Linked DNA regions of Homo sapiens: regions 2, 3 and 4 are each linked to region 1. The links come from fine-mapping of genetic effects on gene expression. A gene starts in region 1. Each other region holds a variant in brackets. All regions are shown on one strand. Distances are from middle to middle. Region 1 holds the start of TKT (transketolase). Region 2 has its middle 38 kb from the start of TKT. Region 3 overlaps TKT (transketolase). Region 4 overlaps DCP1A (decapping mRNA 1A).

Evidence for each region. PIP is the estimated chance that this variant, and not a neighbour inherited with it, causes the effect.
Region 2: its variant is fine-mapped to the expression of TKT in whole blood (INTERVAL, PIP above 0.99).
Region 3: its variant is fine-mapped to the expression of TKT in whole blood (INTERVAL, PIP 0.91).
Region 4: its variant is fine-mapped to the expression of TKT in whole blood (INTERVAL, PIP above 0.99).

What each region holds. Positions count from the first base shown.
Region 1 is chr3:53,252,442-53,260,545 of GRCh38, forward strand. TKT (transketolase) reads right to left here and starts at 3,581. Exons shown (of 14, transcript NM_001064.4): 1 at 3,395-3,581. The coding sequence starts at 3,501. RefSeq lists silencers at 3,178-3,867, 6,132-6,426 and an enhancer at 6,132-6,426.
Region 2 is chr3:53,214,119-53,222,222 of GRCh38, forward strand. No RefSeq gene overlaps it. Among named protein-coding and RNA genes, the nearest start is that of TKT, 38 kb to the right of the region's middle. RefSeq lists a silencer at 5,812-5,861. The variant G/A (reference allele first, on the strand shown) is at 4,204.
Region 3 is chr3:53,228,119-53,236,222 of GRCh38, forward strand. TKT (transketolase) reads right to left here. Exons shown (of 14, transcript NM_001064.4): 5 at 6,865-7,056; 6 at 5,038-5,156; 7 at 3,239-3,432; 8 at 2,339-2,503; 9 at 1,162-1,318; 10 at 889-1,019; 11 at 158-241; 12 at 1-31. Among named protein-coding and RNA genes, the nearest start is that of TKT, 24 kb to the right of the region's middle. RefSeq lists an enhancer at 1-1,010. The variant C/T (reference allele first, on the strand shown) is at 4,691.
Region 4 is chr3:53,334,607-53,342,710 of GRCh38, forward strand. DCP1A (decapping mRNA 1A) reads right to left here. Exons shown (of 10, transcript NM_018403.7): 3 at 7,538-7,665. Among named protein-coding and RNA genes, the nearest start is that of SNORD38C, 5.5 kb to the left of the region's middle. The variant A/AACC (reference allele first, on the strand shown) is at 3,819.

The DNA.
Region 1 (8,104 bases):
AAAAATAAGTTTTCCCTCCTTTTTTGCATATTTTAAACATATACATACACACACACAGTCACTGTATTTTACATATCCTTTTTTTCTTTTGCAAATGGATATTTTTTGAGTTCAGTGAGCTTCCCTCTCCAAGACATTACAATGTAAACATGGTGTAACTCTCGGACACCACAGTATGTTTCCGGAGGGGTAACGGCGGTGAGGAAATCAGACTTTGCCTAACAAAGAACTAGGAGACACACTTGACATTCCACTCTTTTGGAGCACCCTACATTTGTAAATCTTATTTCTCTCCAAGTGCCTTTCAGACTGACTAATATCCACCGCGGCTGTACCTGGCCTTCCCTTTCACCTTTTTCACCATTCTCCAGCCTGGCACAGACTGCTTGCCCAAGAGGCATTCTTTTTTTTTTTTGAGAAGAAGTTTCAATTTTGTTGCCCAGGCCAGAGTGCAATGGTGCAATCTCAGCTCACCGCAACTTCTGCCTCCCGGGTTCAAGTGATTCTCCTGCCTCAGCCTCCTGAGTAGCTGGGATTACAGGCGCCCGCCACCACGTCCAGCTAATTTTTTGTATTTTTAGTAGGGACAGGGTTTCACCATGTTGGCCAAGCTGGTCTCGATCTCCTGACCTTCAGGTGATCCACTCGCCTACACCTCCCAAAGTGCTGGGATTAAAGGGATGAGTCACTGCGCCTGGCCGAAACATTATTTATTTTTGGAGACAGGGTCTTGCTAATGTTACCCAGGCTGGTCTTGAACTCCTGGCCTCAAGCGAACCTTCTGCCTTGGCCTCCCAAAGTGCTGGCATACATGTAACACCATGCCCAACTATTTTTCTTTTCTTGGCCTTTCTTTCTTTCTCTCTCTCTCTCTTTCTTTCTTTTGAGACACAGTCTCACTCTGTCACCCATGCTGCAGTGTGTGGCATGTTCAAGGCTCACTACAGCCTCAACTTCCTGGGCTCAAGTGATCCTCTGCCTCAGCCTCCCATGTAGCTGGGACTACAGGTACACATCACCACACCTAGCCAATTAAAAAAAATGTTTGGCCGGGGGCAGTGGTTCACACTCGTAATCCCAGCACTTCGGGAGGCCGAGGTGGGTGGATCACCTGAGGTCAAGAGACCAGCCTGGCCAAGATGGTGAAACCCCATCTCTACTAAAAATACAAAAATTAGCCGGTGCGGTGGCGGATGCCTGTAGTCCCAGCTACTCAGGAGGCTAGGGCAGGAGAATCAGTTGAACCTGGGAGGCAGAGGTTGCAGTGAGCCAAGATTGTGCTGCTGCACTCTAGCCTGGGCGATAGAGCAAGACTCCATCTCAAAAAAAAAATTTTTTTTTTAAGCTATGGGGTCTCACTGTGTTGCCCAGGTTGGTCTGGAACTCCTGGGCTCAAGCAATCCTCCCACCTTGGCCTCCCAAAGTGCTGTGATTACAGGCATGAACCACCATGCCCTGCCAAGAAGCATTCCTGACAGCATGAGCCCCAACCAGACAGTACGGAATGGCCACCAATTCCCAGCCTGGGCAAGTAACTTAACACACTAGCCTCAGTGTTCCCGTCTATAAAATGTGAATACAACACAATCTATCTCACAGGGTTATTCTCAGGATGCAACAAACGATGATGCTGTGTCATACCAGATACCTACTTGGCAGCTCAGGAACCCTGTAAACATCTGCATGTTTTATCTAGCCCTGAAAGATGCTCAGATGTGCAATACTACTTAGTTGGGTAATTGCTGCCTCTCTCCAGCTAGACCTCAGACCCCCTGAAACGGCCAAAGGTAGCAGGTCCAACAGTACCAAATAAGCAATACAAGGCCTGCAGAGCTACCGTGTGCCAGGCTGGTGAAAGGGGAGCTGAGAGTAAGCCAGGTCCCTGCCCAGGCAGGGGATACCCCACATAAGTGGTAAGACTGACACAAACCCAGGAGAGCTAACAGGTCCAAAGTGTGCAAGGCAGTGGGTGGGGGAAGGGCTTTGAAAGACATCTAATCCCTTCTGAGAACAGGGTGTCTTAGAGGCACAAAGGGTGAATGCGTATCCACCCAGAAAGGTGAACAGATTTACTTCTTAATAATATATCCTGAATGAAATTGGCCAGAAGCCAGAATCTTGTCTGTCTGAAACAGAGCTTGTTTGGGAAGGTCCCGAGAAATCATCCATCACGCAGCCCTCACAACCCTGTCATGAGCCCGGAGCACTGCTGGCACTGTGGCCTCAAAGCAGCCTCCAAGTAGAGCACTGGAGTCCTTGAAACCACCCAGCGTGGTTAAGTGCCATTACTGTCCCCGCTTTACAGAGCGGGAAGCAGGCTCTGAAGTAATTCACTGACTGACCCCCTCACCCACCCCACTGGACACCTCCAGCTGCATGCACGGTGGCCCTCATTAATTATCCCTGTCTCCGCTACAGAGGAGGCTCCTTGGGTGTCCACCTTCTGGGCCAAAAGGGCTGGCCAGGGAAGGATCTTGGGGCCTAGGCACGCCAGCTCCTGCCTGGGAGATACAGCACCTGGTGGCTGGCCCTGCCCCAGGACGTCACTCCCGGCGCTAGGGCCCTGGAACTCCGTCCTTCCGGCGCTCAGCCTTCTCAGTCTCCTTGCCCTCCGCCTCCTCCCGCCCCAGGTCAAATCTTAGACCTCCTTTTCACAATGGATCCCAGGGTTCTGCACCCACGTGCCACCGCCCTCCTCCCCTCTTCCCCCAATCAGCCCCGCCGCTGCCTGGCGTCTCAGCAGCCCCCTGCTCCAAACTCGGACCCAACCCAGGGGTGGCAGGAGACAGGGGTAGGGGAGCGTAGTCTGAGGTGGGGAGAAGGCCGGGCCCCCGAGTCTCCTGCAAGAGGAATTAAAAACAGGGTCTCTAGAGTCGGACTGCTGGGGCTCAAATCAGATCTCCCTGTGTGTAACTTTGGGTAGCTGACTAACTCGGAGCCTCCGTTTCCCCATCTGGAAGGGGGAACACTCCCGGCGGCGCCCACACAGCCAGGTGGTGGAGAGGGTTAAGAGGGCCGCGTTCTGTAGAACAGCAGTAATGGTGGCCTTCCCGGCATCACCCTAGAGGGTACTTGGCGAGTCGCGAGCCCATCCCCCGCGCCACCATGCAGCTGCGCGGCCGGCGATCCGCGTGGGGAAGAGCCGGCCTGAGGCGCACGGAGGACCAGAGGCCCACGCGGCCGAGCCCGGGCGTAGGGCGAGTGTGCGGCGCAGCGGAAGCCGCCTGCAGCCCGGGGCCCTGCGAGGCGCGCGTCTCCGCCCTCCGACGGCGCCCGGGCCACCTTCCTCGTCTAGGCATCTCGCAGCGCGACCCAGAGCCCGCGGCGACTCTGGCCGCCGCAGACGCCCCCCGCCCCGCCCGAGCCGCGTCCCCGGCCGGCGCCGCGCACTCACCCAGAGCCCGCCGCAGTGGTGGCCTGGATGGAGCTGATACGTAGGCGGTTGGCCGTGTCCTTCAAGGCCTGCAGCTTCTGCTGGTCAGGCTTGTGGTAGCTCTCCATGGTGCGGCAGGCGGGGACCGGGCGCACACGCGGACACACAGAGATAGCGGCTGCTCCCGCGGCGACAGGCGGCTGCCGAGGCCGGGCGCGGGGCGGGGGCGCGTTAAGTCGCCGGGCGGGGCGGGGCGGGGATGGGAGAGGCGGGGCAGGGGGAGGAGGCGGGGCTCGGATCACCCCAGGCCTTCAGCCCCGCCCCGCCTGGGGCCGCCTCCTGCCCGCTCCCCTCCCCTAGGCGCTGGGCCGCTGCGGACTGCGAGGTTAGCAGTTAACCACACACACCAATAATAATAACATAACGAACAACTCAGGATTCGAGTCTGGGCTCCTGACTCGAAAGCCTCTCAGTCTCCCTCCTCCACACAGTCCTCCGTGGACTTGTCACGGCGAATCCCATTTTAGAGATGGACAAACTGAGGCTTGGCAAGGGCAATCAAGGTCACAAGGCTGGTGGGTGCCAGGCTTGGCCCCAGCCGACCAACCCCAGGCCCAAGAGACTGCAGGACTTAATTTTGAGACTGAGTTTCGCTGTTGTTGCCCAGGCTGGAGTGCAATGGCATGATCTTGGCTCACCACAACCTCCGCCTCCTGAGTTCAAGCAATTCTCCTGCCTCAGCCTCCCTAGTAGCTGGGATTACAAGCATGCGCCACCACACCTAGCTAATTTTGTATTTTTAGTAGAGACGGGGTTTCTCCATGTTGGTCAGGCTGATCTTGAACTCCCGACCTCAGGTGATCCGCCTCGGCCTCCCAAAGTGCTGGGGTTACAGGGGTGAGCCACCGCACCAGGCCCTATTTCTTTTTTCTAATAATTAAAAAACTTGTTTTTTCTTTGAGACGGGGTCACCCATGGTCACCCAGGCTGGAATGCAGTGGAGTGATTACAGCTGCCTGAAGCCTCAGCCTCCTGGGCTCAAGTGATCCTTCTGCCTCAGCCTCAAAAGTAGCTGGGACCATAGGTACACACTACCACGCCCGGCTAATTTTTGTATGTTTTGTAGAGATGGGGTTTTGCCACTTTACCCAGGCAGGTCTTGAACTCCTAGGCTCAAGCCATCTGCCCTCCTCTGCCTCCCAAAGTGCCGGATTATAGGTATGAGCCACCATGCCCAGCCACTCAGGGCTTTAGAGCCCTGCACAGGGGATGGGGATTATTGAAAATGAGAATAGGATAGTGGTAGCCATGACAATGCCAGGTGATGATAACTGAGAAATTACTAGGGGAAGATCCTTTACAAATTATTAGGGCCTAGAAACACTACTGACTTTTAGGGAGATTATTGGGTTTGCTTCCAGGTCTGTAGGGACAGGGGCACCCACCACTACTGTTATCAGACCCCATGGTTCCCAGAGGTATGAAGCTCCCCAGAGTGGGATTAGGGAGGGGACTTTCATCACAGACACTGTTTCATTCAATCTGCCCACCACACTTGGCCAGTGAGGTACATACTGCCTACAATGCCTATTTTACAGAGGAAGAAGCTCCATTTGACAGAGGAAAGATAAAGGCAAGACCCTCAAACGGATGGCTGGGCAGGGAGCTAAAACCCTGAGAGATCCAAGAGGCACCAGTGGCCGCCCTGTGTCCTCTGTGTCCTCCCTGCATTGCCCATACTCAGAGAGCTCTGGCTCATGAGGCGATTGACTGAATTTGAGTGAGTCCCCCAGCTCGCCTCCAGGTGCTCCTCTGCTGGCCTGACCCCCAGATGCCCAATCAGACCCTAAGTATGGCATCCCATAGCACCTGGCTCCTGCTGGCCCAGCCCGCAGAGGCTGGCCCTATGGTGTCTGGCTGGTGAGGGCTATGGGCTAGGATTGGAGGGGGGCCCCACAGTGTGCCACCCTCAGATGCCTGGCAGGTGCCACCTCTGCCCTCAAGCTGCTCACTGTCTGGAAAAAGGGCAAACCCTTGAAACCCTTTGAAAGCTCTGTGCCTTCCAACTCTGTGGCCCTTAGAGCAGTGGCTCCCTAAGGGAGTGGACTCCATTTCCCCATCTGCCTAATGGGACTCATCCTTATCACTCTGGTCTCTGACAATGGCACAGAACTCACCATGGCTCTGGGGACCTAGGAGTAATGGAAAGAAAATTGTCCCCTCCCCACCACCTGGAGCTCCAGGGACCTCAGGGAGGCTCTCTCTCCTCCTGGTGTTCCACATGAATGGGGCCTGTGATACTATGATATGCATATACAGGCCCCTGGCTTAGAACTGCCCCCAACCCTTGTTATACCACTGGGGTGCTTTAGACCTCAGGAGCAGACCCCAGAAACAGAGTCTCTCAGGCCTTCTCCTACCTTCCTTTCACCTGCTCCTTTCTCTCCCCATGGCAGGATCTTCTCCTGCCGGTCTGTCTTGGAGCTGGCCATAAGTAAGTTCTCTCACCTACCTCGTGTAATTGTAGGTCATTAGACCCCCATGAGAAGGGGTTCTGTCCCATACCCATGAGGAGGGAAGACCAGAGTGGGTGCAGAGTGATAAGGATGAGTCCCGTTAGGCAGATGGGGAAATTGAGGCCACTCCCTTAGGGAGCCACTGTCCTAAGGGCCACAGAGTTGGATGGCACAGAGTTTTCAAAAGGTTTCAAGAGTCTGCCCTTTTACCAGACAGTGAGCTTCACAGAGAGGTCAAGAAGAGTCAGGACACACAGGTCTTGCGGGGTTTCCCCACTCAGTCAGTTAGTATTAGATCATATACTTTTGGTCTAATCACATTTCCACAAGGTTGTCAATCATGTCTGTCCAATGAAATGTCCATGAAAGGCTCAAGAGGACAGGGTTCAGGAGCTTCTGGACAGCGGAACACGTGGAGGCTCACAGGAAGGTGAACAAGAACTCATCCACGTGCTGGGAGGGTGGAACATTCCAGCTCCATGGAGACAATGGCTCCTTCACTAGGGACCTTTCCAGGCCTCCGCCTATGTATCTCTTTGCCTAACTGTTTCTTTGTCTCCTTTAAAATATCCTTTGTAACTAACCGATAAATGTGCTTTCCTGAGTTTTGAGAGCTGCGCTAGCAAATTAATTGAACCCAAAGAGGGAGTGGTGGGAACCCCAACTTGAAGCTGGTCAGTCCCAATCTTGCGACTCATGGGAAGGAGGAGGTGCTCTTGGGGGACTGAATCCTTAACCTGTGGTTTCTGAGGCTATCTCCAGGTAATTAGCATCAGAATGGAATAGAGTTGGAGGACACCCAGCTGGTGTTGCTGCAGAATTGGTTGCTTGCTTGGTGCATGGGGAGAAACCCCCACACATTTGATCACAGGAGTCTTTTGTGTTAATTGTTGTGGTGTGAGAACAGAGGAAAAACAGAGTTTGAGTGTTTTCCCTTTCACAGGGCCCAAGGGTTCAGCCTTATTTCAAGAGCTCTTGGTCTTCCTGAAGGTCAGCTTCAGAACCAGAATCCTAGGCTAGCTGGAGGTGTTGCTAGCACCCAGTTTGTCCAGGGTGGTTCCCTTGTCCCCAGGTCCCAGGGTCTTTATTCGAACCCTCACGCCTCAGAAGTCACATGGCACTTGGAAGAAAGCCCTGGGATCCTGTCTGGCTTCCAGCTAACATCTGGCTCCCTGCTGCCCTCACACCCCATCCTCTCTCAGCCTCCTGTTCACCCTCCCCATGGCTGCCAGAGAAGTGTTCCTCCCCAGCTTAACTCCCATGTTGTTCTTCCTCCACCCTTTGGATATAATTCAGGTCCCCCAGCCCTACCCATCTCAGCCACACTGACCTCGCATTCCTTAAAAAATACCAAGCCCACTCCCTCCTAGAGGTTTTGCACAGGCTGCTCCCTGAGCCAGCAGAGCCCTTCCTGAGGCTCCTCACATGGCCTGGATCTAGAGCCATGCTGCCCATCACACTGCCTGTCTTGGTCTCTGCAGGGCTCTCTGCCTATCTGCATGATCTTTGGTCAGCTCCCGGAGAGCCGGAATACAATCTCTTGTCCCTGGCTCTATCCGCAGGGACTACAACTGGGTCTCATATACAATAGGGGCTCAATGAATGCCTGCAGAATGAAAGCATGAATGTCAAGTGATGTGCCTGAGGACACAGAGTCAGCAAGTGCCAGGGCTGCACCCAAGCCAAGAGGGCATCAGGGAGGCCTCAGGGGAGGGAATCTGGCCATTCAGACTGGTGTCCTTCATTCCGGCCTTTCCAGAAACCGAGACACAAAGGTGCTCTGTTGGAGGGTAGGAAGTGGCAGAAATGTCCTACTGCCGGCATCAGGTGCCAGCAGAGGCCACAGTGACCTGAGAGCAGAGCCACATTCTGGAATCTGAGCTGTCCCCCAGGACCCGTGCAGCACTAGGGAGAAGGTCACCCTTAGAGGAGCCAGAACAGTGTGAGTCCCCACGTAAGAGTCCCCCACAGCCACTCCCCAGGGATCTCCAGTATCACTAAAAGGGACCTGAGGGGGGTTGGGGTCCTGAGGGGTGCCATGCCACCCAGTATTGTTCCTGGGCAATGGCTTTGATCACCAAGGCAGTGCTGATGGATTGTACTGGCTGCCTAGAGTGGAATGTGAAGCAGAGAGTTCTGAATTGCCCTTCAGCCTGAAATGCCAGGACCGGTCTAGCCATACTGGGCAGGGGCACCTTGCATAAGAGACTGGCAG
Region 2 (8,104 bases), 38 kb before region 1:
GGGCTCAGTGGCTCACGCCTGTAATCCCAGCACTTTGGGAGGCTGAGGTGGGCGGATCACAAGGTCAGGAGATCGAGACCATCCTGGCTAACACGGTGAAACCCCATCTCTACTAAAAATACAAAAAAATTAGCCGGGTGTGGTGGCGGGCGCCTGTAGTCCCAGCTACTCAGGAGTTTGAGGCAGGAGAATGGTGTGAACCCAGGAGGCAGAGCTTGCAGTGAGCTGAGATCGTGCCACTGCACTCCAGCCTGGGCAACAGAGCGAGACTCCATCTCAAAAAAAAAAAAAAAGAAAAAGAAAAAGTAAAGGGGCTGGGTGCGGTGGCTCATGCCTATAATCCCAGCACTTTGGGAGGCTGAGGTGGGTAGATCACCTGAGGTTGGGAGTTCGAGACCAGCCTGGGCAACATGGAGAAATTCCATCTCTACTAAAAATACAAAAATTAGCTGGCCATGGTGGTGCATGCCTGTAATCCCAGCTACTTGGGAGGCTGAGGCAGGGGAATCGCTTGAACCTGGGAGGGCGGAGGTTGCGGTGAGCTGAGATCACTCCATTGCACTCCAGCCTGGGCAACAAGAGCAAAACTCCATCTCAAAAAAAAAAAAAAAAAAAAAAATAGCCAGGCATGGTGGCATTAGGCTGTAGTCCCAGCTATTCAGGAGGCTGAGGTGGGAGGATCGCTTGAACCCAGAAGGCGGAGGTTGCAGTGAGCCAGTATCACACCACTGCACTCCTGCCCAGTGACAGAGCCAGATCCTGTCTCAAAAATAAATAAATAAATAAAAATAAATGAAAAATAAATGAAATAAATAAAAAATACTAGGCATGGTGGCATGTGCCTGTAGTCCCAGCTACTGAGGAGGCTGAGGCAGGGGGATCACTTGAGCCCCAGCGTTCAAGGCTGCAACGAGCCATGATTGTGCCACTGCACTCCAGCCTGAGCAAGAGTGAGACCCCATCACTTTTTTAAAGAAATAAAATATACATACAAATAGTGTGAAGCTAAAGGAACAGAAAATTATGCACCATGCTAACACTAATCTAAAAAAACTGAAGTGGCTATACTAATATCAGATAAAGTAGATTTCAGGACAGAGAATGTTACCAGGGATAAAGAGGGTCATTTCAAAATAATATGTCAATTCATCAAGAGAACATAACAAATAACAATTCTAAAAACCCAATAATCCTAATAATCTAGCAATTCAGCTGCTCTGCCTACGGAGTAGCCATTCTTTATTCCTGTACTTTCTTTTTTTTTTTTTTTTTTTGAGACAGAGTCTTGCTCTGTTGTCCAGGCTGGAGTGCAATGGCACGATCTCAGCTCACTGTAACCTCCGCCTCCCGGGTTCAAGCGATTTTCCTGCCTCAGCCTCCTGAGTAGCTGGGATTATGAGTGCAAGCCACCACGCCTGGCTAATTTTTGTATTTTTAGTAGAGATGAGGTTTCACCATGTTGGTCAGGCTGGTCTTGAACTCCTGACCCTCGTGATCTGCCTGCCTCAGCCTGCCAAAGTGCTGGCATTACAGGCGTGAGCCACCGCGCCCAGCCTCCTTTACTTGCTTAATAAACTTGCTTTCACTTAAAAAAAAAAAATCTAGCAATCCTAAAACCTAATAACAGCTTCAAAATACTTGAAGCTAAAATGAATAGAACTACAAGAAGAAATAGACAAATTCACAATTAACTTTGAAAATTTCAGCACCCCTCTCTCAATAATTAATAAAACAGGTAGACAGAAATCAATAAGGATAGAGAAGATTTGAACAACACTATCACTGAGTTGACTCAATAACAGCAGAATCCACGTTCTTTTCAAGTACACATACTCTGGGTCACAAAACAATTCTCAATACATTTAAATGAATTCAAGACACACAAAGTATGTTTTCTAACCACAATGGAATTGAATTAGTAGTCAGTATAGAAAGATCTCTGGAAAGTCCCCAAATATTTGAAAACTAAACAATATACTTCTAAATAATCCTTGGATCAAAGAGGAAATCAAATAGGAGATTAGAAAGCATTTTGAAAAGAATGAAAATACGACATTTCAGAATTTGTGGGATGCTCAGTACAGATTAGATGAAATGAACAAATTCCTTGAAAGATACAAACTTCAAAAACTCACTCAAGAAACATAATCTAAGCTGGGCGCAGTGGCTCACACCTGTAATCCCAGCACTTTGGGAGGCTGAGTCAGGTGGATCACCTGAGGTCAGAAGTTTGAGACCAGCCTGGCCAACATGAGGAAACCCTGTCTCTACTAAAAATAAAAAAATTAGCCAGGCATGGTGGTGCGCACCTATAATCCCATCACTTTGGAAGACCAAGGAGGGCAGATTACTTGAAGTCAGGAGTTCGAGACCAGCCTGGCCAACGTAGTGAAACCCCGTCTCTACTAAAAATAAATTAGCCGGGCATGGTGGCACGCACCTATTGTCCCAGCTACTCAGGAGGCTGAGGGAGGAGAATTGATTGAACCTGGGAGGCAGAGGCTGCAGTGAGCCAAGATTGTGCCACCGCACTCCAGCTGGGCAACAGAGCAAGACTCTGTCTCAAAAAAAAAAAAAAAAAAAAAAAAAAAAGCCTGAGACTGGGTAATTTATAAAGGAAAGAGGTTCAATTGACTTGCAGTTCTGCATGGCTATGGGAGCCTCATGAAACTTACAATCATGGCAGAAGGGGAAGGGGAAGCAGGCACCTTCTTCACAAGGCAGCAGGAGAGAGTGAGTGTGAGAACAAGGAAGTGCCACACTTTAAAACCATCGGCTCTCTGAGAACTCACTCACTATCATGAGAACAGCATGGGGGAAACTGCCCCTATGATCCAATTACCTCCCACCTGGTGCTTCCTCTGATACGTGGGGATTACAACTTGAAATGAGATTTGGCTACACAGAGCCAAACCGTATCAGCCCATGTCTGTGAAAGGAATTGGATTTGAAGTTAAAAGCCTTCCCACAAAGGAAACTCCAGACCTAGATGGCTTCACTGGAGAATTCTATTGAACATTTAAGGGAGGAATAATACCAAATCTATGAATAAGTGATGCAAAATATTATTTTTATAGTAAAACTGGATGTTATAGAGCAGAGTGCAAAATCTGCAGGAATTTTAAGTTTACCCTTAAAATCCTCGGAGGATTCCTTGGAGATATCTTGAGCCTGGGACAGGCAGCTTTGGGCTCTTACCAGATGCCTGGGGACTCTGTTTCTTCTCTCTCTTGGGGACACCAGGACAAAAGAGGGCAGGACATACTTGGGATCTCTCAGTGGTTGGTGAGGAAGCTGGGACTGGCCCTCGGGGTGGCTAACCAGGCAGCCCTGGCTCAAGTCTCTGCCTGTCCATCACCCCTATCCCAAATGTGTGTTTAGTACCTTGAGATCTGGCTTGAGTATTATTTGAGCTATAAAGTGTGCAATCTTCTGTAAGGTAGGGACTGTGACAATATCCTGCCTTTTTTTTTTGAGACAGGATCTCACTCTGTTGCCCAGGCTGGAGTGCAGTGGCTCAATCATGGCTCATTGCAGCCTTGACCTCCCAACCTCAAGCTCTCCTCCTGAGTAGCTGGGACCACAGGTGTGCGTCACCACATCCAGCTAATTTTTGTATTTTTTGTAGAAACAGGTCACCCAGGCTGATCTTGAACTCCCAGGCTCAAGCGATCCTCCCACCTTAGCCTCCCAAAGTATTGGTATTGCAGACATGAGCCACAGTGCCCTGCCAACAATATCTTGTCTTATCAGTGAGGAAGCAGAGGCCCTTCTGATGGGTGGGAGATTTGCCTGAGGCCACCCGGGGTTGGAATCTGATTCCCTGTGACTGACCAGGTTCTAGTCCCCTGGCATTCAAGGCTCCGTCTCCCACACTCATTTCATTGTCCCCTACACCTGCCTTCTAGTCAAACTAGATGTTTGCTGTTACCCAAATAGGACTCCTCCTGGAATGGGTACCCCAACTCCAACCCCAGCCCCCCACAGCTCACTCTCAGACCCCCAGTCCACACCTGAAGCCTCGGCTTGGATGCCCTCTCCTCCCAGGAGCCTTTCCTGACCCCCCTTCCCACCATACCATCCAGCCCTCTCTTTCCCATCTTGGGTCACCATTCTTCCTATTGCCAAACCAACTTTTGTTTTCCTCAGTCCTAAGCATTCGGGCACCAACTCAGACTGGGGGGTGGTGGGTAGGCAGAAGAG[G/A]AAGTGAGAGAGACCATTGAGGAACTAAGAGGAGCTGGGCCAGAGCTGGGGTCTGGGAAGTGAGGAGGAGAAGATTTGAGATGAGGCTGGAAAGGGTCAGAAAAGGCTTCATCCACTGGCAGCCATGTGTGAGTGGGGATGTGTGAGCAGAAGAGCCATTGTGTCAGGTTCTAGAAGTTTCTGTGGGGCTGCTGTGTAGAGAATGAGCAGGGAGAGCAGGGAGATCAAGAGGCAACTGGGAGGCCATTGACTGCTCCCTCTCAGGAGAGATGATGGAGGTCTGGACCAGGATGAGGGCAGAAGGTGGCACGTTTGGGATCATTTAGGAAGTAAAACCACCAAAGGCTGGTTAACAGATATGAAAGTACAGCTAGGTCAGAGGAATAAGTCCTAGTGTTACATAGCACCGTAGGCTGACCATAATTAACAATTTATTGTTATTGAATTATATTTTAAAATAGCGAGAAGAATGGATTTTTTTTTTTTTTTTGAGATGAAGTCTCGCTCTGTTGCCCAGGCTGGAGTGCAGTGGCACGATCTTGGCTCACTGCAATCTCCACCTCCCTGGTTCAAGTGATTCTCTTGCCTCAGCCTCCTGAGTAGCTGGGATTACAGGTGCGAGCCACCATGCCTGGCTAATTTTTTTTATATTTTTAGTAGAGACAGGGTTTCACCATGTTGGTCAGGCTGGTCTTGAACTCCTGACCTCATGATCCGCCCGCCTCGGCCTCCCAAAGTGCTGGGATTACAGGCGTGAGCCATTGTACCCAGCCAAAGAGTGGATTTTGAATCTTTCTGACACAAAGAAATGATAAGTGTTTGAAGTGATGGATATGTTAATTACCTTGATCACTAAACATTGTATACATGTATTAAAATATCACACTGTAACCCATAAATATATACAGTTATTATGTGTCAATAAAAAATAAAAGCAGGCGGGGCGCGGTGGCTCACGCTTGTAATCCCGGCACTTTGGGAGGCCGAGGCGGGCGGATCACGAGGTCAGGAGATCGAGACCACGGTGAAACCCCGTCTCTACTAAAAATTCAAAAAAAAAATTAGCCAGGCGTGGTGGTGGGCGCCTGTAGTCCCAGCTATTCGGAGAGGCTGAGGCAGGAGAATGGCGTGAACCCGGGAGGCGGAGCTTGCAGTGAGCCGAGATCGCGCCACTGCACTCCAGCCTGGGTGACAGAGCGAGACTCCGTCTCAAAAATAAATAAAAGCAAACTGGGTGCGGTGGCGCACGTTTGTAGTCTCAGCTACTGGAAAGGCTGAGGTGGGAGGATTGCTTGAGCCCAGGAGTTCGAGTTTAGCCTTTTAAAAAGTAAAATTTAACTAGCCTGGGCAATATGGTGAAACTCCATCTGTACAAAAAACACAAAAATTAGCTAGGTTTGATGGCATGTACCTGTAGTTCCAGCTACTCAGGAGGCTGAGGTGGGAGAATCACCAGAGCCCAGGAGGTCGAGGCTGCAGTGAGATCATGCCACTGCACTCCAGCCCAGGCAACAGAGTGAGACACTATCTCAAAAAATAAAATTAAATAAAATTTAGAAAAAATAAAATAAGGAAAAAGTAAAATCAATGAACTCCGGTGTCATTGGAAGAGAGCCCTGCCTAGTCTCACAGGGAGTGAGCCTGACATCTTTGTCCCAGCATGTACCTTGCAGTTTCAGTTGTGTGTGACAACGACCAGGAGGCACTGCTGCAGCCAGGATCTCTGGTCCATGAGTCCATCCCTCCCCAGCCCTACAGGTGGCGCTGCAGGCTCCTCTTCCATGCAGGCCACTACCGCCTGCAAAGCAATGCAACGTGGGCCTGTGAGGATGAATGGACAGGCAATTGCTGAGATCTATGTTGCAGAGATCAGCTCAAATGAAATTCCTGGTGGGGTGGAAATGTCAAAGCCCTTTACCCCCCACCCCTGGGGAACCTGGGCTCAAGCATGTGCAGAGGTCTCTGCTTGTCTCCAATTAAACTCTTAAAGGGATAAAGCGCCTTATCCAGTTCGGGGATTTCTCAGTCTTTTAGACATACAGGAGTGGAGATGGAAACTTCCAGAATTTAAAGTGTGGTGTATGGATGGGAAGTTTTTGTTAAAACTCTGGTCAGTAGGCCGGACGCAGCAGCTCACACCTGTAATCCGAGCACTTTGGGAGGCCAAGACTGGTGGATTGCTTGAGCTCACGAGTTCGAGACCAGCCTGAGCAACATGGGGAGACCCTGTGTATACAAAGAATACAAAAATTAGCTGGGTGTGGTGGTGCACACCTGTAGACCGAGCTTACTCGGGGTGACCCTGTGTATACAAAGAATACAAAAATTAGCTGGGTGTGGTGGTGCACACCTGTAGACCCAGCTTACTCAGGGCTGAGGTGGGAGGTTCACTTGAGCCCTGGAGCCGAGGCTGCAGTGAGCCAAGATCACACCACAGCACTCCAGCCTGAGCCACAAAGTGAGACCCTGTCTCAAACAAACAAACAAAACAAAAACTCTCTGGTTGGTTGTCCCTTCCTCCTGTGAAAACATGTGAAAAACATACGTATAGAATGTTCAGATCTGAAATCACTAAAAACATAAAAACATACCATGTACAACTTGCTGTACTAATTAAGACTACCTGAGGTACTTTGATGAAGACTTGAGGCAGAAACCCACATTTGCCAGTGTTGGAAACTTTGTTGTTGTTGGGAGGTGAGACCCAGATCAAGGAGGGGGATTGGGGTTTTCTCCTGCCCTGGACCTGGACGTGTGTGGAGGGGTGCTCAGTGGCCTGCTGATGGGTTTCTGCTTTTTTTTTTTTTTTTTTTTTTTGAGACAGAGTCTCGCTCTGTCGCCCAGGCTGGAGTGCAGTGATGCCATCTTGGTTCACTGCAACCTCCACCTCCCAGGTTCAAGTGATTCTTGTGCCTCAGCCTCCTGAGTAGCTGGGATTACAGGTGCACACCACCATGCCTGGCTAATTTTTATATGTTTAGTAGAGACGTGGTTTCACCATGTTGGTCAGGCTGGTCTCAAACTCCTGACCTCAGGTGATCCACCTGCCTCGGCCTCCTAAAGTGTTGGGATTACGGGTGTGAGCTACTACACCCGGCCTCTGCTCCCTTTTTAAAGAACCCTCCTTCTTTCTAGCTTTTATTTATTTTTTGAGACAGGATCTTGCTCTGTTGCCCTGGCTGGAGTGCAGAGGTGTGCTCACAGCTCCCTGCAACCTCCATTTCCCAGGCTCAAGTGATCCTCCTACCTCAGCCTCCTGAGTAGCTGAGACCACAGGTGCATGCTGCTGCCTAGCTAATTTTCGTATTTTGTGTAGAGATGGGGTTTCTCCATGATGTCAGGCTGGTCTTGAACTCCTGGGCAAAAGTGATCCTCCTGCCTTGGCCTCCAAAGTGCTGGGATTACAGACATGAGCCACTGCACCCAGCCCCCTCTTCTCATTTAAATCTCAAGATAGTTTCATTTTTCTCTTATACTTCAAGTTCCGACATCCAGAATAGTGTGCCCCTGGGAGAGAAGTGAACTGTGAACTTGGCAGATTTGAGGGCTGCTATGGACTGAGCTGTGGCCCCCAACCAAACCCAAATTCATAATTTGAAGCTCTAACCCCTAATGTGACTGTATTTGGAGACAGGTTCTGTAAAAAGTTAACTAAGGTTAAACGAGGTCCTAAGGGTGAAGCCCTGATCTGATGGGATTAGTGTCCTTATACTATAAGACGCACCAGAGAGGGCTCGATCTTCCTGCCCCCAGCACACACAGAGGCAAGGCCACCTGCAAGCCCAGAAGAGAGCCTTGCTGGAAACTGAAGGGGCAACATCTTGATTTTGGACTTCCCAGCCTCTAGCACAGTGAGAAGCACACTTCTGTTACTTGAGCAACCCAGCCTATGGTACTGTCT
Region 3 (8,104 bases), 24 kb before region 1:
TCACCTGGTCATCCTTGCTCTTCAGGACCACCTGGGGGTGACACAGAGGGTGAGTAAGGCTCAGGGCCCTGGGGCAGGGTGTGCCCTGACTGCTGGGAGTCACAGCAGGGAGGGTCCAGGCAGCTCTGTGGGCTCCTGGGGCATGCGAGGCACTGACCTTGGCTTGTCCGACCTGGAAGTCCTCATTGTTGTTATAGATGATGGCATTTTCTGGGCGGCTGGTCCGGATGAAGCAGATACCCTGAGACCGAAACAGATAAACTGAGGATACAGGATGTGGCACACCCAACCTCAGAGACGAGGTCTTTCTAGAGAGGCCATCCCTTCCCATGGGAGCGTTAGTTACTGCATCCTGGCTACTCCAGCAGGGAAAAGGGCCTTGCTTGCCCTCTGCCGCCCGCACCCCACTTGAACACTCTGAGAACTGCCCACCACCTTGCAGCCTCAGACCGAAGGCAACTTTCCACCAGGTAGACTGGCTGCAGGTGGGCTACTCCCACAGACTGCACCAGGCAGAGGGGCAGGAACCACGCGCACTGGGTCTGTGGCATGCAGCTCCGGGCCTGGACCACAGGGCTCAGCTCATCCTTGCCTGTCTTGGAGAACCCAACTCAGGAGGGTGGAGAGGTGTCAACCGCTGGACCGGCCAGGGCTGCCAGGATTCTCAGCAGAGACAGACTGGCAATCAGTTGACAATGTCTGCCACGTGGCAGTAAGTGGGGTGTGTATTTCGTTTTTTCTTGTCTAACTTCCACAAGCTACACGAACACCAGGGGCAAGGTCAGGAAACACCCCCTGGGGCAGCAAGTGACCAGCTCTGGCCTCCTCTTCTGTTTCCCTTGGGAAGTGATGGCTGCCAGCAGGAGAAAGAACAGCCATGCAACCTACCTTTGTATTGGCGGCTAGTTCCACTGCCTTCTCTGTAGCAACGCCATCACTTGGGTAAAAGACAGTTGATGTGGGGACTGACCGAAACATAGCCAGATCTTCTAGGGCCATCTGGGAGGGCCCGTCTTCCCCTGGGGTGTGGGGGAAAGGATATGCAGAAATAAGACCCCTACCCCCCCATCCATGGGCTGGAATCCTGGCCCATCCCCCTCCCATACCTCCTGGTGCAAAAGTCAAGGGAGCTCCAGGTGTAAACACCCTGGCTAAACTCACCGATGGAAACGCCGCAGTGGGAGCCGCAGAGGTTGATGTTGCTCTCGGAGATGGCGGCCATGCGAATCTGGTCAAAGGCCCGCGTGAAGAAGGCTGCAAAAGTGCTGCAGAAGGGCACCGTCCTGTTGCGGGTGGCACAGCCCACCGCGATGCTCACCTGGGGGCAGGTGGGACAGGGTCAGCCCAAAGGGGCAGGCAGAGGGTGGTCGGGGAGCCTAGGACCCCTTTTGTGGAGAAAGCCACAATTTGTATATAGATTGTCCATCCTTTCTGGGCTTCTGAATATGTCCCCCACCACCTTCTTCTGCAGAGACCGGTCCTCCCAACCCCTCCCTGGGGTCCGAGGGCAGCAGCCTCATGCCTGCTGAGGCTCCAGGCCCCAAATCACTCATCCAGAAGCAGCACTGAGTACAGTCATCAGTTCCAAACCAGCTGCCCTTCAAGGCTCCAAAATCTGCCAGCCAACACAAGGCCTCTTTCCCTAGTACCTGGGACCTCCCCAGCCCCACGCCCTGCAGAGCAGTCTCTGGAAACCACAGAGAGAATTTCAGGTCCAGTTGGAAGAACTCTGGAGATCTGAGTGCCCTCCAGAGAGAGGAAGCTCCCTGTCCCTAGGGGCCTGCAAGCCAGGCTGGGCTCCTGGACCACCAGGAGGGGATATTTTGAAAACATGGACAAAACATTGTTCCTTACTTCACAACCTCAGTTCCTGACAAGGGTCTGCTTCCCCAAATGGGTACATGTCAGGGGCCCAGAGTTCCCTCATCTCTGCATCCCTCAGGGTGGCAGGGCCCAGAGCCGTGTGCATTACAGGTGCTCTACAGACTCGGGCTGCTAAACCCATCACGGCCCCACCTACTGGCCAGGCCTGTCCTCCACCTGGAAGAGACCCCATTCACCACCAGGCCTGGCCTGTACGCAGCTCCTCCTGAGAGCACCTGCAGTCCCATTCGGCTCCCCCATGTGCACACCTGTCCAGGACATTTGCACCTGGGCAGAACCTCCCAAACTGTGGCTGTTCAAGGTCAGGGGTTAACGCTGGGTCCTGGCTTTTCTTATAGTCTCCCTGGGCTGGCCTACAGCAGGCACCTGGCTCTGCCAACATGGCTGCCCCGCACCCCTCAGACCACAGCCCTCAGCCTTGGGTGGACCTGTCCCTGCCGGCCCCAGCACCTACCATGTTCTGCTCAGCAATGTAGCACTCGATGAAGCGGTCCGGGTGCTCCTTTTTGAAGATCTCCGAGAAGGTGGAATTTTTGGTGTCCCCATCCAGGGCGATGATGCGGTCACTGGCATGGCCCAGCTTGGCCAGTGCCTGCCCGTAGGCCTTGCGGGTGGCTATCTGTGAGGAAGAGAGTGGGAAGGCTCTGGACCCCTCTGAGGGTGAGTGCACACCTGCAGCCTGGAGCCCTGCTTTCAGAGAAGGATTAAAACGGGGCCAAAAATGGAAGCCCTGGAGCACAAGGTCCTGCAGAGGCTTTTAACTGCTGAAAGGTTGCCAACGACTACGGTCAATGTCTTGGGAGCCCCTGGAGCCCCGGCCCCTTCTGGCTGTGAAAGGTATAAGCTACAGAAGACACCCACCAGCCCCAACTTCCCGCCTGCTGCACCAGGTCCATGAACCTATTCCACTTTGCATGGGAACACAGAAGGCTTGGGAGTCAAGGCCAGGCACAGGCTGCATGGATGGGTTCCCTTGGGACAGAAACCTGGAGTGGGACAGCTCTGCCTAGCCTTTCCCAGGTCAGGTGGGGGTCCTGAGCTCAGGCCAAGGGTCCCTCGTGGACCAGCGATGCAAGAACTTGGGAGTGAGTCCTTGGCTTTGATCTCAGTTCTGTCAGTAGCTTGCTAAGCTTGCTAAGTGGGCAATTCCCTTGCCCGGTCTGAGCCTCTGCAGGTCAACTCCAGAGATGTCTGTCATTCTGAGGGAAGTGACAGGAACAACACCTCAGGGATCACTCCTCGCCCTAAATGAATCGCTCTCCTCCCTTTCCCAGCCCTCCAGAGGGTGTATCTGGGCCACAGACTTGGGAAACCTGAGAACTATGGGTTCAGAGAAACAGGCCCCACTTTGTACCTTGTCCCCAACTTTGTAGCTGGGCAGGCTGGGCATGCGGATGTTGGCAATGTCCACTGAGGGTGCGTCCTCCTGTGGAGGGGTTGCCAGGATCTTCTTTTTGCTCTGGATCTGGCTGTAGATCTCCTGGATGATCTGCTCAGCCATGTTTTTGGGGAGGGGCTTCCCATGCCAAGACTCCTTATCTTCTACCCCTGCAGACCCAACACGGGAGGACAGAGGAATGGGTAAGACAGAAGCTCCCAGAGGGCCAGGAGGCTGCTCCAGGAGACTGGCCCTCTACCTGCCGAGGGCAAGGGAGGAATGGCATCATCCCAGACAGGCAGAGCCCAGCCAGGCACGGGGGCCAGGAAAGGAGGGTCGCAGTGAATAGGATGGACTCCTACGTGCCCACCACTCACTGTCTACTGCCTGGTCCTTTGGGAGCTCACAGCTGAGTGGGAAAGGAGGGGCCAGACGTGGGCAGGTGTGTGTTTCTGGGCCCACTGCCCCATCCCTTCACCAATGTGTCCATTCTCTTCCTCCCCACAACCCCGCCTGCAGGGTCACACACAGGTAGAGGTGTCTGCTGCAGAAATACTCAGTTTGTCGACTGGGTTGGAAGGGACCCTGGCCATCAGAAGGGGAACCCAAGGCCCAGAACAGGGCTTCCAGGGTCACCCAATGCATCTGTGAGCAGCAGAGGAGTCTATAAGCACCTAGGCATGCCCACCCCATGGCACCTTGTTGTGTGCGGCCAGGAAGGCTGAATATCCCTCTCCCTGGAGGTCACCTCAGTAGTCACTAGAGTCTGGCCAGAGCCAAGAACAGACTGAACTCCCAGGTAGCACCCAGCAGCCCGAAAGACTAGCAGGAGCCCCCAAGAAGCTGCAAGTGGTCCAGATCCTGCCCATTTTTAACACCAGAGGGCAGTGCCAGGCAGCAGCACCAAAGCCATGACAATATCCCAGAGCCCTTTCCTCGACATCCACCCCCTCCCAGACACCTCCCAGCACTGCCAAACCCCCACTCAGAACATCCTCATATACCTGAGTCTACATGGGCAGAACAAGCCACAACCCCTGAGAGCAGGCAGGTGGGCAGCCAGGGGCATTTGGCAGGGAAGCCGACCCAGGCCCTGGGATCAGCCCCCCTCGTGCCATAGACTTCCTCTGTCCCCGGGCAAGTCCCTGACCACTTGTAGTCTCATTTTCCCATCTTTAAAATGGGTGAGGCCATCCCAGGCCTAGGAATCTGAAGCCCACACCTGGGTGCCAGGGAGTGACTTACGCCTGCCTCATTCTCCGGCCTGGGGCAGAACCCAGGTTCCAAACCCCCCAAGGCTCTTGGCCCACACAGGCCTTGCTCAGCATCTGCCATTGCTTGAGGAGTACCCCACTCACCTCCTGGAGGGAACAGTTCTCTCCGGGCCCTGCCTGGCTCTGTGTCGGCCCTTCAGCTGGAGCAGGTGGC[C/T]GGAGCTGGCAGAGCACACACAGCTGCAGCTCTGAAAGGCACCAGCCAGGGTGGGGCACGGGGGCTGCCTCACTCCACGACCTTCCTCTCACCCACAGACCCTCCAAGTCCCTCCTCTCCTCCTGCCTGTACATGCCCCCACCGGCAGAGGCCAGACGGATCTGAGTTTAAATCCTGGCTCAGCCACAGGGGTCACTGAGTCACAGCATCTCCCGCTCCCCTTCCCTGGAGCCTGGTGAGCTCAGTGAGCAGCAAGGGCTGTTTCCCTGGATGTGCGGGTCAGAGCTACGTAGCCACAGTGTCTGGGCGAGGGGTGAAGGTGGGGAGGGCGGCTTGTGCATACTGACCCGTGATCCCTCGGCCCTTGAAGGTCTTGGCAATGATGGCTGTTGGCTGGTGCTTGGCCTGGCCAAAGGCCTTGCACAGCTCCTCCACGCTGTGTCCATCCACGATGATGGCATGCCAACTGGGGACAGGGGGCAGAGAGTAAGGGGCAATTCCCAGGGGCCACAACACCGAGGAGCCTTCCAGGGAAAGGTCTGCCTTGGCAGCTGGGGTCTGCCCAGGCTCCACCCCACAACTGCGGCCTCAGCTGGAGTAGTAGAAAGCTTGCAACATTCCTGTTTCCAGTTTGGGTTTTTTAAATCCTTTTCTTTTTCACATTATTTTACTTCCTTTTGTTTGCCTCTGAACAGGTTTTCCTCCTCCTCTTAAGTAATCCAGAGCTCAGTTCCTTTATTGTCTCTTTCATTCCTGATCTGCTCATTTCCTACTGAAAGCTGTTCTGGGGTCAGCGCACTGGGTTTGGAATCTGTCTGCTATTAGATTCTTGATGAATTTTTTGGCCCAATTCTTATTTGGGGAACACATTTGATCACTCCACAGATGCTGGATGTGGTGCTGGAAATGTTTTTGAAATGAACCATGGAGTCAAATATACAGGAAGGAGCTGGGGCAGAGCACCCTTTCTCTTGAAAAGCTATCCTTTTGGGGACTCTTTTTGACATAAGAATAAAAATAGCACTTCTCAAACTGAGTGCCATGCCAACCACTACCCATATTAGCCCACTGAAGCCTCACCACGCCATGCTTGGGTGCTGAGCTGGCCCCATTGTACAGACAAATCAACTGAGACACCGAAGGTGGAGTAAGTAACGTGACCCACGCCACAAAGCAAGTTAGCGGTGGAGCCAGGACTTCAGGAATCTGGCTTGAGTCACGAGGTTATGGACACAGGTCCTGGGGGTGCTGCTGGGGTTGTACTCTGAGTCCCCAGATAGATGTGGCCTTGGGGAGGCCTGTGGGGTGAGGACCCTGTGGCTCAGTTTCCTCGCCTGTCCAACAGAGATTATTTCCTCCCTTCCTCCTCTCCCTTTCTGAGGTCAGTCATCAGGGAACACAGGCCTGCGTATGCTGTGCTACTGCAAGGTAACCCCAAGCATCCTGTTACTTAGTGTAGTCACAGGCATGGGTTCATCCGCAAAACGCAGTCCTGGAGGCCTGACCTGAGTCTCAAAGCCTTGCACGGCACCTGCCCTGCTCCCTCCCCTCCACAGCCTCCTCAGCCAATGCTGGGCCCCTGTGCAGAGCAGCTTGTGTTTGGCAACACCGGTGGAGGCTTTGAGGTGGAGCCCCTCTGGCTGACACCCATGCAGATTGACCTCCCTGCTTTGTGCCCTTTGACCCTGAATTTGTAACCAATCAAGGCCGAAGGGGGGCATCTGGAAACCCTATCTCCCATTTCACCAGGAGCCTGTTCCTCCTCCCCAGGCTGGGCGGGGCTGGGCACAGGACGTGGCCACCAAACTGAGGTTCAAACCTCTCCGCAGCTATACATCCTTTAGCTTTACCGAGCAAGCCCCCATCCCTCAAGAACCCTCCTTCCTCAAGAACAAAGCGAGCTGACGTGAGATGGTGTGTGGAAGCTCCGAGAGCCACCATGCCACAACCACGAAAACAAGGAAACTCACTTAAAACTGGGCCTGGCCCACATATCCTGAGCCATTAAGTCCAAATGCCTAGAGTTTGAAATTGTGAGTCAAATGCTAAAGAAAGGGACCTTTAGATGGTGCTTAAGGTCCCAGCTTCAGCTCCTGCACCTGCACCTGCAAAGCTGTGATCACAGACCACTCTCCCGTGCTGTGACCACACTCAGGCCACAGCCTCGTACATACCCGAAGGCCTCGCACCGCTTCTGGTAGATGTCCATCTGGTGCTGCAGTGGGGCCGGGTCACTCTGGCCCAGGCGATTGATGTCTAGAATGGCCACAAGGTTGTCCAGCTTATAGATGCTGGCGAAGGCCATGGCCTCCCATACAGAGCCCTCTGACAGCTCCCCGTCTCCCAGCAAGCAATAGACTCGGTAGCTGTGGACAGAGAGTGAATCAGGCCAGTCCCTCTCACCTGGACCCAGCTGGCTCCCACCCCCCCACCCATCCAAGGAGCCTGCATTCTGGGTAAAGGAGCAGCCACGCATGGATATGCAGAACAGATGGCATTTACACTCGAGGGGCAACAGTGTCACCAGGTTCCTGCAGCCTACCACAAGCCACACCCCAAGAGAAAATGGCATGAAGGAAGACGTCAGGAGCTCAGGAAGAAGTACTGGTTGTTAAGAAACAGAGGTCTAGGACAACAGGGATCTGGCTAATAAGATCTAGAAAAATGGGGGTTGTTGGAATGAGAGGAAAGTGAGGAAGGGTGGGTGAATAGGCTTGAGCCACCTGCTGCAGGGGACAGACCCCGCTGTGAACCAGAGGTTGGAGGAGGCCTTGGGACTGGCTGGGTGGGCCAGTGGGAAAGGGGAACCTTGGGAACCAAGCTCTGCTTCTGCCCGGAGGAGGGAGGTGGGCCAAGGAGGCCTGAGGCACTCTAGGCAACACCCTGGAGCAAGAGGGCTCTGGGGAGGATAGAGCAGAGGGCACTTGAGGACCAGGCGCTTCCTGGGACAGGCTCTCCCCAAGCTTCCAAGACTAGCTCTTGACCCCAAGACTGAAGCTGCACCTGGCTCTTTCTCTACCACAGGGGCCCTCTCCTCCCCTCAACACAGGCAACTGTGATCTTTTCAAGACAGTGAGACGTTAAAAAGAACACTGAACTTGGGATAAATTACCCAGCAAACAGAACGTTCCCGGCCTGGGAGATGTGAGGGGATGGGGGTAGCAGAGGGACGGCAGCAACAGACAGGACTTGTCTGAAGGTCGCGCTGTCAGGAAGTTGCTGAGCCAGGATTCAAACGCAGGTCTGACTGTAGCCTAGACTGTCCGCTCCTTGCCGTGCAGGCATGCAAGTAGGGTGAGGAGTGGTAGGACTTGGGGACCTCCCCTTACCCTGCCCAGTGTCTAGCTGTGTAGCCCTAGGAAATGAGGCTGGTGCCTGGTTGGGCTCAGAGGGGACATGGCTGCCCTCCTGCTC
Region 4 (8,104 bases), 82 kb after region 1:
GTTTTTTACAAAATAAAATCATTAAAAGCCAGAACCAATTTCATAGAGCTTGATGGTACCACAAGCCTGCATCTTAATATTTTCAATTAATCATGTTATACTGTGGAGCGTTTGGCTGTAAGAAAGAGAAAAACCAGTTGTCTGCTTTTACCCGTCACGCGCTGCAAATGCTCAATAGACACATGTGGCTACTGCACTGACAGCACTGCTGTGGGAGCTCCTACAGCAAGAATCTGGGGAGACAACTGCTGTTGTTTTTGTTGAAAAGTATCTTTATTTTGTTCTCTTCGATTACTGAATTATTGGTTTTTTTTTTTCTTCAGTCCTCTCAATATATTATTCTTTTGTCTTCTAAACTCAGTAGCTGCAACTATGGAATATGCTGTCAGTCTAACTGGTGTTCCTTTGTAAACACCCAATCTTGAGCAACCTTTGGTTGCTTCTGTCTCTGCCTTTGACATCTCATCAGAATGTGTCTGGGTGTGTGTGTGTGTGTGTGCACGCGCATGTGTATATATATATATTTTTTTTATTTTTATTTATTTATTTTTTGAGACAGAGTCTCACTCTGTCACCTAGGCTGGAGTGCAGTGGCATCATCCCGGCTCACTGCAACCTCCACCTCCCGGGTTCAAGCGATTTTCCTGCCTCAGCCTCCTGAGTAGCTGGAATTACAGGTGCCCGCCACCAGGCCCAGCTAATTTTTGTATTTTTAGTAGCGGTGGGGTTTCACCATGTTGGCCAGACTGGTCTCGAACTCCTGACCTCAAGTGATCCAGCCTGCCTAGGCCTCCCAAAGTGCTGGGATTACAGGCGTGAGCCATAGTGTCCGGCTAATATTTCTATGTTTTATGCTTGGAGCTCATTCTATTGTTTAAATCTGAGATTTATGTCTTTTATGGATTCTGGAAAATTCCCAGTCATCAACGCTTCAAATATTGCCTCTCTACAAATCTGCTTTATCATTCTGAAATTCTTATCCATCAAATGTTAGAGTTTATAATTCTAATCACTCTGTCATATTTCCATTTTGTCCTTTTTTTGGATACATTCTGGATTTCCTCAGATATATCTTCTAGCTCACCAATTCTCTTTTCAGCTATTACCAATTAACTGTTGAATCCAAGTAGAGAGTATCTTTCAATTAAAATTTTAATTTCTATTAGTTCTACTCAGCAATTTTTCAAATCTTCCTTTTTTTTAATAGCATTTAATTCTTTTTTATTCTTTTATTTTTTGAGACAGGGTCTCACTATCACCCAGGCTGGAGCGCAGTGGCGTGATCATGGCTCACTGCAGCCTCAACCTCGCGGGCTCAGGTGATTCTCTCACCTCAGCCTCCCAGGTCCACCCGGCTAATTTTTTGTATTTTTTATAGAGACAGGGTTTCGCCATGTTGCTCATGTTGGTCTTGAACTCCTGGGCTCAAGTGATCTGTTCGCCTTGGCCTCCCAAAGTGCTGAGATTACAAGTGTGAGCCACTGTGCCTGGCAGCATTTTATTCTTTTCTTTTTGAGATGGAGTTTAGCTCTTGTTGCCCAGGCTGGAGTGCAGTGGCATGATCTTGGCTCACTGCAACCTCTGCCTCCCGGGTTCAAACGATTCTTCTGACTCAGTCTCTCCCGAGTAGCTGGGATTACAGGTGTCTGCCACCACGCCAGGCTAATTTTTTCTATTTTTAGTAGAGATGGGGTTTCACCATGTTGGGCAGGCTGGTCTCGAACTCTTGACCTCAGGTGATCCACCTGCCTCGGCCTCCCAAAGTGTTGGGATTTCAGGCGTGAGCCACCGCACAGGGCCTTTATTCTTTTTTCACATTTGCTGTTCTTTTTACTTTATTTTATAATCTGTATCTGGTATTTACATCCATTAGAGTCTCTAGTTTCCATGAACTAAAGTCTTTGGGAAGGGTTGTATAATCCTGCTGTTTGTTATATGCTACCTTTCATTCACTGCAAAGTATTTCCTTGTATATTTAGTAATTTTAGACCATGAGACATGCCTGATATTCCTGGGCAACCTGGCTGGGCTAAGAATGTATCTTGCCAGAAGGGATCTACATTTGCTTCTGCCAGATGCCGTAGAGTAATCACCAGCTGATGATTAATTTTATGTTAATTTCTTGACCTGGGTAAGAAATGATACTAAATGAATGGTACAACTTGAACCTTAAATTTGTATGAGGGAAGTCCCATGGTTATTTTTTAGGAAGACATCTTCCTTCTAACCCAAAGCCCAGATTTATTTATTTATTTATTTATTTATTTATTTATTTATTTATTGAGATGGAGTCTTGCTCTGTCTCCCAGGCTGGAGTGCCAAGGGGCCATCTAGGCTCACTGCAACCTTCACTGCCTGGGTTCAAGCGATTCTCCTGCCTAGCCTCCCAAGTAGCTGGGACTACAGGCGTGCACCACCATGTCCGGCTAATTTTTTTGTATTTTTAGTAGAGATGGGGTTTCGCCGTGTTGGCCAGGCTGGTCTTGAACTCCTGACCGCAGGTGATCCACCCGCCTTGGCCTCCCAAAGTGCTGGGATACAGGCGTGAGCCACCATACCTGGCCAAGACTTCTCATTTTTAATATATATATTTTTCCAATGTATACCTCAGGCTTTCTAGTAATGGCCCCTACAACATTTGAAAATAATACTTGTAAAGAGACACAAAGAGCCTGCAGCTCATGCATGGTACTATCAGAAGGGATAGGAAGAAGCATATCACAGGCCTGTGTTATAAGAGAATCTGGATAGGCCAGGTGTGGATAACACTGATGTCCCTAGGATTCTTTCACTAATGAGATCATTTGTTGAGTCTAGAATGGAGACACAGTCTATGATATTTTGTATTTGTAAATGCCTAACAAAATACCTTACTTTCATGATGGCCTTTTAAGATAAATAGGTCAAATCAGTGGTTTAAATGATTTAGCCAAGGTTATAGTCAGTAAGGCAAAGCCCAGAATAGAATTCTTATCTGCAAACTAAATTCCATGCCAAAAGAATGTTACCATGGCAAAGCCACCCTCAGGGATATATTCTGCAGCTTTTGTATCTAGAAATCATTTGTAAGTTTCAAAAAGGAATGACTAAATAGGACGCATAAAAATCTAAGCCAAAGCTTCCCAAGTAGTTGTTTGATTCAGGTATGGCACAACAAAGAGCATGTTAGCACATGAGCTCATGCTGAGACTTCCACTGTCCAGTATGGCAGCTGCCAGCACATACAGCCATGTAAATTCTAATATATTAAATTAAATAAACTAAAAAGAAGTGTTCTTCATTTGCCCTAGCCACATTGCAGGCTACTATATGGGACAGTGCTGACACGGAACTATCATTTTCCCTAATTGCAAAGTTTTAGTGGATAGCACTACTCTAGAATATGGATTGATGAAGTAATTTTATTGTTACAGTAGAGTGGAAAGAACATTGGCCTTGAAGCCCGAAAGACCTACTCCCAAATTCTCCATCTGTCACTTATTACCTTTGCGAATCTCGAGCAGATTCCTAAACAGCTCTGAGCCTCTTGTTTTCTCAACCTGTAAGTTGAGGATCAGAAATAAGGTGCTAGAAATACCACTGCTACTCAATAACTCCAGAATTTATAACCTCCCCATAATTCATTGCAATCCCACTGGGGTCTTGTGACTGCCAAAAGGCCCTTGCACAGAATAAAAATACACTGTTCCCAAAAGATTCAAGAGGCTGGACATGGTGGCCCATGCTAGCACTTCGGGAGGCTGAGGCGGGAGAATTGCTTGAGCCCAGGAGTTCAAGACCAGCCTGGGCAACACAGTGAGACCTTGTCTTTTGAAAAC[A/AACC]ACCACCACCACCACCACCACTACCCCACAAAGATTTAAGAGAATCACCAAGCCTAAGCCCTTAGTCAGTGTAAGAATTTTCTCTTTAAGATTTTATCTTTTTCTTGAGGGGTGGGGTGGGTGTAGATGGGCATGTTTTATAAAGAAAAACTCTTGGCTGGGCGCGGTGGCTCACTCCTGTAATCCCAGCACTTTGGAAGGCCAAGGCAGGTGGATCACGAGGTCAGGAGATCGAGACCATCCTAGCTAACACGGTGAAACCCCGTCTCTACTAAAAATAGAAAAAATTAGCCGGGCGTGGTGGTGGGCGCCTGTAGTCCCAGCTACTCGGGAGGCTGAGGCAGGAGAATGGCGTGAACCTGGGAGGCAGAGCTTGCAGTGAGCCAAGATCATGCCACTGCACTCCAGCCTGGGTGACAGAGCAAGGCTCCGTCTCAAAAAAAAAAAAAAAGAAAAACTCTTAAAAATAAATAAAACAAATAACTTAGAACTGAAAAAAAGTTATGGTTCACTGTTCTAGTACATTAACTCCAAAAATTAATTTGAATGAAAGAAGTTGGATATGAAGGTGTCACTTGAGTTAAATGGGTCAGGTGTCTTGATGGTATTTCCCACAAGAGAATGGCAGAAGTGCAGCTATAGAATCAGGTATAATTACCTGTATGCATAATCAGATACTAACTTTTTATTTAAAGAACAAATCCCTAAACAACTTAATAGCTCGCTGACCTGACAAGACTATTTTCCACTTTTAAGACTATGTAGACAAAACACACACTCGAGAGGGCTTAACACTCACAAAATCATTTTCTGTTGTCTTATCACTTCTCCCCAATACAGCTATTCCTTTAAATACTTTCCCTAATGAAATGACCTGGTTAAGTGAGTTTTCTGTTCAACTAAGAAAACTTTTGTTTCAATCAGTTGAAAATTTTCTAAAGTAAAATGCATTAATGCACTTTCTCCCCAAGAATGTTCTAGTTAACATAATAAATACTCCTGATGATTTTAGGTCTCACTATAACAATTTAACCTATGATACTACAGTGGAGTTAAAGTTATAAAATATTGACATTTTAATGCCGACCCCAGGTTATTCTCTGGATATCTGCTTGATTTTCAGAAAATAAAACCTAGTATTAGCTTGTTTTCTTATAATTTGCCTTCATTTCTTCCACACACGAACTATAAAAATATTTCCAGACAACTGAAGCTCTAATTAGTTAGCTTCTGGTTACTCATGGTTCAATTACATTTGTGTTATGTCACACTTTCAATTTCACAGGACTTTTGCCTTGTGAAAAAAATATAATACAATTCATCTCAGGTTTATGCTAAATGGTAACTGGGTCCGGATAACTTTCCCTACTGACTACTTTAATAATCAAACCACTTAGGAGTGATGGCTAGATTAAGTTTCCAGGCAGTAAAGAACAGAATTAAGCCTATTTCACTTAAAAAAAAATTGGATCCATATTCATTTGCAGAATTTCTCCCACCCTCTTTTCATTTTTTGAGTCAGGGTCTCGCTTGTTGCCCAGGCTGGAGTGCAGTGGCGCAATCATGGCTCACTGCAGCCTGGACAGCCTCCTGGGTTCAAGCGACTTTCCCACCTCAGCCTCCTGGGTAGCTGGGACTACAAGTGTGTGACACCACACCTGGCTAATTTTTCTATTTTTTTGTGGAGTGGGGGTTTTGACATGTTGCCCAGGCTGGTCTCAAACTCCTGGGCTCAAGCAATCTGCTTGCCTCGGTCTCCCAAAATCGTGGGATTGCAGGTGTTGAGCCACTTTGCCCAGCCGAATTTTCCCTTTAATGGAATATTCAGTACAAAGAAAAGAGCAATCTGAAATAATTACATTGTTAACATTAGTTTAAATAAATCCATCTGAACTTACAGCTATTACAAAGCATGTCTAATATGTCCACAGAATTTAAAATCTGAGAGGTAATTACCTGGACAAATAGTTTACTGAGAAGTCAAAAGATAGAACCTATTTCACTTATACTTCAAAGTGTGCTACGGAAAAGAACTTGGGGGTTTCTAGCTTTAAAATAGGCCTTGTTACTTCTCATTCAGGGAATTAAGAGGTGTATAATTTTTAGTAACTTTTTCTATTTTATACTGAAGACATCCCCCAAGACCAATTACCCCCCCGCCAAGTGAAATTCAAACACATTAACTTTTACTTTTTAAGTTAGAAGCAACATTTCTCCAACTATATCCTTAGATGCCAATTAGAGCACAATCATTGTTACCATAACCAGTTTTCATATCCCTATAGTCAATGTCCAACAAACTGTCCTCAAACACCCATACCTTCAATATCCATACTAATACACTGGAATCAAGTATATTTTTTAGTACTGTAGTTTCTTGGAAGGGCCACTCTAGCTTTGCTGACTACATCCAATCGTTATTAGAGATTGTAAAAATGCCTGAAAGAACCCTGGACTAAAAAGCAGAAGAATAGTCATAATCCTAACTCTCCAACAGGGTAATAGTTATGCATCTCTGAGTCTCAGTTGACTTAACTGCCTGCTTACACCACATAGGTAACTGTATCGTTAACATTAAAGCACCACAGCTCTTGGCTCAGTGCTGGTAACCAGTAGACACTCAATTAAATAAACAGATAGAAAAACCTTACTTAGAAACATATTCAGACAAAATAAAGTAGAAAAAGTAATAAATATCTTAAAAAAAAAAACCCATCACCACTATTCTGGGCAAAAATAATATTTTCTGGCCGGGCGTGGTGGCTCATGCCTATAATCCCAGCATTTTGGGAGGCCGAGGCAGGCAGATCACAAGGTCAGGAGATCAAGACCATCCTGGCTAACACGGTGAAACCCCTTCTCTACCAAAAATACAAAAAAATTAGCCAGGCGTGGTGGCGGGTGCCTGTAGTCCCAGCTACTTGGGAGGCCGAGCCAGGAGAAGGGCATGAATCCGGGAGGCAGAGCTTGCATGAGCCTAGATCACACCACTGCACTCCAGCCTGGGCAACAGAGCAAGACTCCGTCTCAAAAAAAAGAAAATAATAATAGTAATAATAATACTTTCTTTGTGGAAAGAATTATCTGTATCTGTTCCCATCCTGTGTGTCCCAAACTAAGTTCTGTTGCTTAGGGACATGGGCAGCTGATAGTCCACAGCTGCAAAAAAACAAAGGCATAAACCTTATTTTAATAAACCGACAACAGAAATGTAGTGCTATTAAATGAAATAGTAAACTAAATTATATACAAAAGAATGTTTCCAGTTTCAGAGCCCAGTTTATTTATTTATTTTTTTGAGACACAGTCTCATTCTGTTGCCCAGGCTGGAGTACAGTGGCGCGATCTCAGCTCACTGCAACCTCCACCTCCCAGGTTCAAGTGATTACAGGCGCCTGCCACCAAGCCCGGCTAATTTTTTTCTGTATTTTTAGTAGATACGGGGTTTCACCATGTTGGCCTGGCTGGTCTCGAACTCCTGACCTCAAGTGATCTGCCCTCCTCGGCCTCCCAAAGTGCTGGGATTACAGGCATGAGCCACCACCTCTGGCCTCAGAGCCCAGTTTAAAAGGTTTGATCTTTCCAACAGACTCATTTATAATCATTAAGTAGAGACCATATTTTGTTTTGTAATTTGAAACTTCCTAAATAATGGATTGATAGAAACTAAAGTCACTCAATTTTAAATGTAATAACTATAATAAAACAGATATACTCACAGCTTGCATTTCTATACAGAAGAAATGGTTCATGGAGCTGAAATTCCAAATCTTTATTCACTGGTTCAACTAGATTGTGCATATTTAGTCGATTCACAATGGTAAAACCATGGTAAGGGGAAGCTGACCTTAGATTTAATAGAAGAAAAAAAAATATGTAGTTACCATTTAATCTGTAGAAATGTTATCTACTATGTACTTTATTTTCATTTCAAAAAAGAATGCATTAGAACATTATACAATATTATCAGCACTTACATCTGTAAACAAAAAATTTAAGTCAGATCATACTCCTCCTCTGACGAGAAGTCTCCAAAGACAGTCTCTCAGAGTAAAGGCCAAAGTCCTTACTGAGGCCACCAAGGCCCCACCTGATATACTCCCCACTCTGACTTCATTTCCTATGGCTCTTCTCCAGCTCCTACTCTCCAGCCACACCGGGCTCCTTGCCACTCTCTCTGCGTGTGTGCTTCTACCTAAAAACCTCTTCCTGGATTACTGCCCCAGAAGCTGCACAGCTATCTCATCTCCTCCAAGCCTTTGTTCAGATGTCACCTTTTTCATGAG